2 linked regions of the Homo sapiens genome follow. The protein of the gene in region 2 interacts with the protein of the main gene of each other region in a biochemical or structural test. Each region holds a gene or a part of one and is shown on either strand. Other genes may lie near its edges.

Evidence for each region. Proteins that work in one complex are often made in the same cells at the same time.
Region 1: the proteins of SH2D2A (region 2) and LRRK1 form a complex in vitro, tested with the Homo sapiens proteins (one large-scale study listed by BioGRID).

Annotation. Positions count from the first base shown.
Region 1 is NC_000015.10:101,051,678-101,055,356, forward strand, and holds part of LRRK1 (leucine-rich repeat serine/threonine-protein kinase 1), read left to right. Parts: exon of another isoform or gene 1-33; coding exon 34-283; exon of another isoform or gene 284-712; intron 713-780; exon of another isoform or gene 781-1,244; coding exon 1,245-1,411; intron 1,412-1,545; coding exon 1,546-1,743; intron 1,744-3,268; coding exon 3,269-3,546; intron 3,547-3,679.
Region 2 is NC_000001.11:156,806,849-156,810,348, forward strand, and holds part of SH2D2A (SH2 domain-containing protein 2A), read right to left. Parts: intron 2,960-3,500; coding exon 2,813-2,959; intron 2,643-2,812; coding exon 2,355-2,642; coding exon of another isoform or gene 2,289-2,354; exon of another isoform or gene 498-2,288; coding exon 330-497; 3' UTR 327-329; exon of another isoform or gene 1-326. UniProt on the Homo sapiens protein: Could be a T-cell-specific adapter protein involved in the control of T-cell activation. May play a role in the CD4-p56-LCK-dependent signal transduction pathway. Could also play an important role in normal and pathological angiogenesis.

The DNA.
Region 1 (3,679 bases), on a different chromosome or scaffold from region 2:
TGTGAAGCTGTCTCCTGCTCTGTCCTTATTTAGCCCTGACAGCCACAGAGAGCGACGGGACGCCACTCATGGAGCAGTACGTGCCCTGCCCGGTCTGCGAGACAGCCTGGGCCCAGCACACGGACCCCAGTGAGAAATCAGAGGATGTGCAGTACTTCGACATGGAAGACTGTGTCCTGACGGCCATCGAGCGGGACTTCATCTCCTGCCCCAGACACCCGGACCTCCCCGTGCCGCTGCAGGAGCTGGTCCCTGAACTGTTCATGACCGACTTCCCGGCCAGGTATGCCCCGAAGGCCCCTCCCAGAACACAGTGCAGGTCACAGGGGGCGTTCCTCGCTGTGCAGTTGCCGAGTGATCTCCAGGAAGACCCCTCTGGGGCGGGCAGGTGCCCCGGCCATGGCTTCCCACCAATCTCAGTACCTTTTAGGTTCCCATCCTCGGCTGCCTGAAAGGAACCAGGCTGCCGGCTTTCCATTTTGGAGGCCTTGATAGGCCCAACTGGGAAGAGTGCTTTGCAAGTGCAGCCATCCTGCCTCCCCATACGGCTCCCCCTTCCCCTCGTAGCCAGAGCTGCTCTCTCCTGAGCTGCCTCTCCTTTCCACTCCTACCTCCCCACCAGCTCTAGGGCCAGCAGATAAGTGCAGCCAGTGCTCCTCAAGCATTCAGGAAGGGGAGAGAAGGGAGAGCTCCCACCCAGAGCCTTGTTTACCTTCTTTGTCAAACGCTGACTCCTGTCTGTAGCCCTAGCGCTGAGCTCCCACCCAGAGCCTCGTTTACCTTCTTTGTCAAACGCTGACTCCTGTCTGTAGCCCTAGCGCTGAGCCTTGGACCCCTCAAATCTGTTCTTAGAGTTTATTGTACCTATGCTAACCCAAGATCATAACTAGAGAGAGAATCGGGGAGGAAATAGGAAACGTCACCTTTCAGAAGAAAACTTCCAAAGGGGTCCTTTCTCTACGGCCACCACTTCTGTGGGGTTCACCCTGTGCCAGCCATCACCACCTCTGAGGCCGTTCCTGTCCTGAGAGCCCTCTGTACAGAGGAGACTGAGGCTTAGCAAGCCTGCATAACCTACCCAGGTGTGCTCACCCACAAGTGGCAGGGCCGGGGTGGCCCAGATCTGTCCAGCCTCACAGATGGCTTTGAACCATGACTCTCGGCCGTTGGGGCAAATGACCCAGCCCAGGACCCACCCGCATCAGGGCGGGGGGGATGTGGCTGATGCCGGGCGTGTGTGGCAGGCTCTTCCTGGAGAACAGCAAGCTGGAGCACAGCGAGGACGAGGGCAGCGTCCTGGGCCAGGGCGGCAGTGGCACCGTCATCTACCGGGCCCGGTACCAGGGCCAGCCTGTGGCCGTCAAGCGCTTCCACATCAAAAAATTCAAGAACTTTGCTAACGTACCGGCAGGTAAGCGGGTCCCAGGTTGGTGCTGTTTTTCTCAGACATATGCTGCCCGGGTCTAAGCTCTGTGCGGCCTTAGAGAGGCCTGAGGCTGCAGGCACCCCATGTCCTACTGGCTGACACTGCGCTGTCCCTGGCAGACACCATGCTGAGGCACCTGCGGGCCACCGATGCCATGAAGAACTTCTCCGAGTTCCGGCAGGAGGCCAGCATGCTGCACGCGCTGCAGCACCCCTGCATCGTGGCGCTCATCGGCATCAGCATCCACCCGCTCTGCTTCGCCCTGGAGCTCGCGCCGCTCAGCAGCCTCAACACCGTGCTGTCCGAGAACGCCAGAGGTACCGCGGCGCGCCGCCCCACCCGGCCCCGGAGACCGACAGAGCCCCGGGCGCCTCCTGCCTGGCACGGGGGGTAGAGCCTCAGGTGGCCTTGGCAAGCCCAGGGCACGCCCAACCCATGGCTCGTGTGACCATCCCCTGGCTGCGAGGCCAGGCTCCCCGCCAGGTCCAGTCACTAGGCAGAGCCTTGGCGAGGACGGGGGAGCGCACACTCTGGAGTCGGCTAAGACCAGGCTCTGCCGCGGTCCGGAAAGCCGCTGAGTTTATTTGCCTGTAAAAGGAGGATGGTAACAGGCCTCGCTGGGAGGGCACCGAGCACGGGAGCTGCATTGAATCACTTTCCCAACTGCACACGTACACGGCTGCTGAGACTCTGAGACCGCAGGGTCAGTGGGACCATATTTTAACATAAAATGTCGAAGTAATTTACCTTGAGAAAAGAGCAGCTAAACTCCAGAGTGGCCAGAGGGTGAAAGGTAGCTGTCTTTTGACTAAGGAAGAAGAAATGCTATGAAAATCAATCACTTCTGCCTCAATGGAAGATAATTTTTTAAACAGAATTCTTTACTTTTTTTTAATACAGGATCTCACTTTGTTGGCCAGGCTGGAGGACAGTGGTGCAATCTCAGCTCACTGCAGCTTTGACCTCCTGAACTCAAGCCATCCTCCCACCGCAACTTCCCGAGTAGCTACAAGCACACGCCACCACACCCAGCTAATTTGTTGTTGTTGTTTGTAGAGATGGCCTTTCACCCTGTTGCCCAGGTCGTTCTCGAACTGTGAGCTCAGTCGATCCCCCCACTTTAGCCTCCCAAAGTGCTGGAATCACCGGCATGAGCCACACGCCCAGCCAAACAAAATGCTTCTACTTGCCTCTCACCCCTTTACGTAGGACAGCCTTGACCTGAGGTGAACTCTAGAGATTTCGAACCCTTGCTCATTCAGCAAAATGCCAGCAATTCCAGGAATAAGATATCAGGAATGAAGCTACAGCGATGAGCATTTCTATCCTAAATACTGTTTCACTTAACCAGGCCATTCTCTGTCCTTTATGGCAGTCTGGTGAATAGTGAGAATGTGTCAATGGAATATAAAGTATCTAAGGGCCAGGCGCAGTGGCTCACATGTGTAATCCCAACACTTTGGGAGGCCCAGGCGGGCAGGTCGCTTAAAGCCAGGAATTCAAGACCAGCCTGGCCAACATGGTGAAACCCCATGTCTACTAAAAATACGAAAATTAGCCAGGCATGGTGGCACGCGCCTATAGTCCTAGCTACTCAACTTGGGAGGCTGAGGCAGGAGAACTGCTTGAACCCTGGAGGCAGAGGTTGCAGTGAGCCAAGACCATGCCACTGCACTCCAGCCTGGGTGATAGAGGGAGACTCTGTCTCAATAAAAGAAAAAAGAAAAAAAATCATAAAGTATCTAGGGAGATCGGAAGACAAAAAGACAGTTGTTATCATGATAATTTGATTCTATCAAAACTGAAATTTTGATACATTTGAAAATTGTTTTTCTTTGCAAGATTCTTCCTTTATACCCCTGGGACACATGCTCACCCAAAAAATAGCCTACCAGATCGCCTCGGGCCTGGCCTACCTGCACAAGAAAAACATCATCTTCTGTGACCTGAAGTCGGACAACATTCTGGTGTGGTCCCTTGACGTCAAGGAGCACATCAACATCAAGCTATCTGACTACGGGATTTCGAGGCAGTCATTCCATGAGGGCGCCCTAGGCGTGGAGGGCACTCCTGGCTACCAGGCCCCAGAGATCAGGCCTCGCATTGTATATGATGAGAAGGTACGTGCCTGGATCCCCTGGCCCAGCCCCACAGTGTAGGAGCCCAGCCCTCAGGCTAGCCGGGCAGTCCTGGAGGCACCTGAAGCTTCGGGGCTCAGCATCCCCAAAAGCACATTTTTCTCACTCTCCCTTG
Region 2 (3,500 bases):
TAAGGACAAATGTAATGCTGCTCATCCTCCCGCTCTTACCCGTGGCAGACATCACTAATCAATCATGTGCTTTTTTTCTGCTGAGTTCAGATATGACCTTAACATCCTTTCCAATGCAGCACTCTAGGCAGCCACGACCAATGGATTGGAGTTGGCATGCAAGATGACACCTCTTTGCCATCCTTGCAATAGATGATGGCTGAGCTCCTTTCCAGCTTTGAACACCTATGGTTTATTCCATCCACATTTCTTGAGAAGTGTGCCAGGTGTGTGTGAAGGTCTCTGGACCTGATGCTCCAAGTTATCCTCACCAAGCTCAGACTTACCGCCTACTGAGGAGGCCCAAGGGGAAGCCATGCCTGTCCTCTGTCCTGAAGCACCTGTCTAGAAAGATTGTGGGGGAGGGTGTGTCTCCAGGCGGGTGGGGGCTGGTGGGGCAGGGGAGGGCCTTGCCCAATCACAGAGTTCTCAGAATGCAGCTGGGAGCCACCTGTATTCTGCAGAGAGAAGGACAGTTCTAGGTCACACCCTCTACCCTCTGCCTCCTAGGTGTACTTGCAGTCTCAAGACATCTGATCTGAACAGACTTTGGCTTCCAGAGAGGGTATCTAAACTCCTCTCATTCATTAATTCAACAAACATCTCCTGAGCACCTGCTCTGTGCCAGGCACTGGGCTGGGTGCTTTGGAAACAGATGGGTAAGTCCCAGCCCCTCCCTTCAGGGAACTCACACTCTAAACTAGGGAAGGGACAGAGAGAAGGAGATGGGAGGAGATGGATGTCTCAGGTGATCAGTGGCATGGCAGGTGTGTGTAAGGCACAGGGGGTGGCCTCTGAGAAGGGAAAGCTGGTCTTGAAGGATGATTAGAAAGTTGCCAGGCAGCGGGAGGATGAGGTTGCAGGAAGTTGCTATAGGCAGAGATACTGGCGGGTGCAAACCCCAGGAGGCTTGAAACCACTTGGTGAGTTTAGAGAAATGTGAATCATTCTAGGAGAATGGGAGTGGCTGGTGGTAAGGCTAAGGAGGTGAGACCCCCCACCCAACCCAAGTCTAGAGTGCTTCATGGGCCAGGCAGCTGCTTCAGCAAGACCATTCTGGCTCTTTGGTGCAGAGTGGATCAGAAGTGGCAAGAATGGTGGTTAGGAAACCAGTTAAGAAGCTCTTGGGAGCCAGGTGAGGTGGCTCGAGCCTGTAATCTCAGCTGAGGTGGGAGGATCACTTGCACCCAGGAGTTCAAGTTTGCAGTGAGCTATGATTGTGCCACTGCACTCCAGCCTGGGTGACAAAGCCAGACCCCAATGATGGGGGCTGGAGCTGGGGGAAGGAAAAATATACTTAGGAAGAGATCCAGCAGGAATGAGTGGCTTACTGGGGGAGTAAAGAGGGAGCTGTGCTGAGGGAGCCCTGGGATTCTGGCTTGGCTAGCTGGGTAGCTGGAGAGTTAGCAATCAGGACAGTGAACATGGGACCGAGCTGTTTGGAGGGCAAGGGTGAGAGCGCTGTTGGCCGTGTTGAGTTTGAGGGGCTCAGGGATGCTGGGGGGAACTGACCAGAAGCTTGGAAAAAAGTTTGGACGGAGATATGGACAGGTGACGTTAGCTCTAGGACAGCAGACGTTGGCAGGGGTGTGGGTGAGCGCGAGCAGGCTCAGGCTGAGCAGGGAGCCTGGGGCACCAGCAAGGAGGGAGGATGGGGAAGGGTCTGAGGAGGGAGGCTGGGGAAGGGCTTTGGGAGGGCCGCAGAGGCCGAGGGAGAGGGTGGGATGGCTGCTGGGGCTAACCCATGGCATGAGGTACTGACTTGAAGGGTAGGCAAGAAGACTTAGGGCTGGGGAGAAGGAAGAGGGAGACAGGGAGTACACAGAAGCAGGCTGGGAGAGCAGGGTCCCCCTCCCCTGAGCTCACTGAGATGACATAAGGGAACCCAAGTGCTCTTTTTCTCCAGGACAGCAGGGCCGTGAAGGCCAAGGGAGAGAGCCAGAGAGGCACGGGGTGGGGTCAGCCCCAGGTGCGTCTGAAGAGGGCCTGCAGGACAAGATGGACGCAGATCAAAAAAGCCTCGATGTGGGAGGTGGAGGGGCACCCTGCCTGGGGGCCTCTGTTTTCTGTGTGAGATAGGAGGGCATGGGGGCTTGACAAAGATGAGGTCTGAGCGACTCTGGGGAGAAGAGGGGGCAGCCTCTGGGCCTGGAGAAGGGAGGCTGGTGCCTGGATCATTCTGTTCTTCCCACATCACCTCACACCTCTGCCCCTTACCCTGCCCCAGGCATCCACTCTGAACACCTTCTTCACCTTCCCCCATCTACCTGCAGGGAGACCTTCTTGCACCTACCTTTCCCTGCATACCCATTTACCTGGCCTCCTGGGACAGGCCTGGACCAGCTCTTCCGTAGGACAGGGTGCCCAAGGGTGGCGGGTAGGCCCTCATCTTCCACTTCCACATAGATGTTGCTGGGGGCTTCCCCAGGGCTGCCCCGGCCCATGGCATAGAAAGCTATGGGTTCATCAGGCTCATTGTAGATAGGATTGGAGGGCTTGGGGCGTGGGGCCGGGCGGTGTCGTGGAACAGGGATTGTGTAGACTTCTGGGGGCAGCTGAGGTTTGGCGGGGATGGGAGGCTTGGGCCTGAGCAGCTGGGAGGGCTGGGAGAGAAGGTGAGGCCAGGGAGGAGTGGGGTGAGGGAGGCAGGGTTAAAGCCCCAGCCTAACTCCCAGCCTGAGCCTCTGCCCCCGCTAGGCCCCTCCTCCTCCCCGCTGCCTGCACCCCCTCGCAGGCCTGTCCTCCCACTCCCTCAGCCCCTGCAGCCCAATACCTCCTTCTCCCCGGCCCCCTCTTTCTGCATCGGGACTGGGGCTTGCCCCTGTTTGATGATTGGGCTGTACTGGGGGTTTGGGTCCTGGCTTTTGCTTCCAAAGTTTGATTCTTCGGTCCTCAGGGAAAGTCCTGCAGGCTCAGGAGTCTGCTGGGAAAGAAGGAGGTCTGAGGCACTCGGTGGAGCGTTGGGGTGGGGGAGGTGATCAGGAGGACAAAATAATCCAGTCTAAGTGGAGGATGGGGGAAGGGGGAGGAGCACAGAAATTTGGCCTGGGCTGGGTTCCCTGGATGAGGAAGAGGGGGTGGTGACGGCAGGGAGACCCAGGGTTGGATGGAGGCAGTGGTAAGCTCTGGTCACAGGCCATATCTAGCATTAAAGTTTTTCTTTTTTAAGATAGAGTCTCACTCTGTTGCCCAGGCTGAAGTGTGGTGGTGCAGTCTCAGCTCACTGCAGCCTTGACCTCCTGGGCTCAAGCTATCCTCTTGCCTCAGCCTCCCAAGTAGCTGGGACTACAGGCATGTGCCACCACACCGGCTAATTGTGTTTTCATTTCTTGTAGAGATGAGGTCTCACTATGTTGCCCAGGCTTGGTCTTGAACTCTTGGGTTCAAGTGATCCTCCCACCTCAGCCTTCTTGCGTCTTAGGATTACAGGCGTAAGCCACCACACTTGGCTGCATTAAACT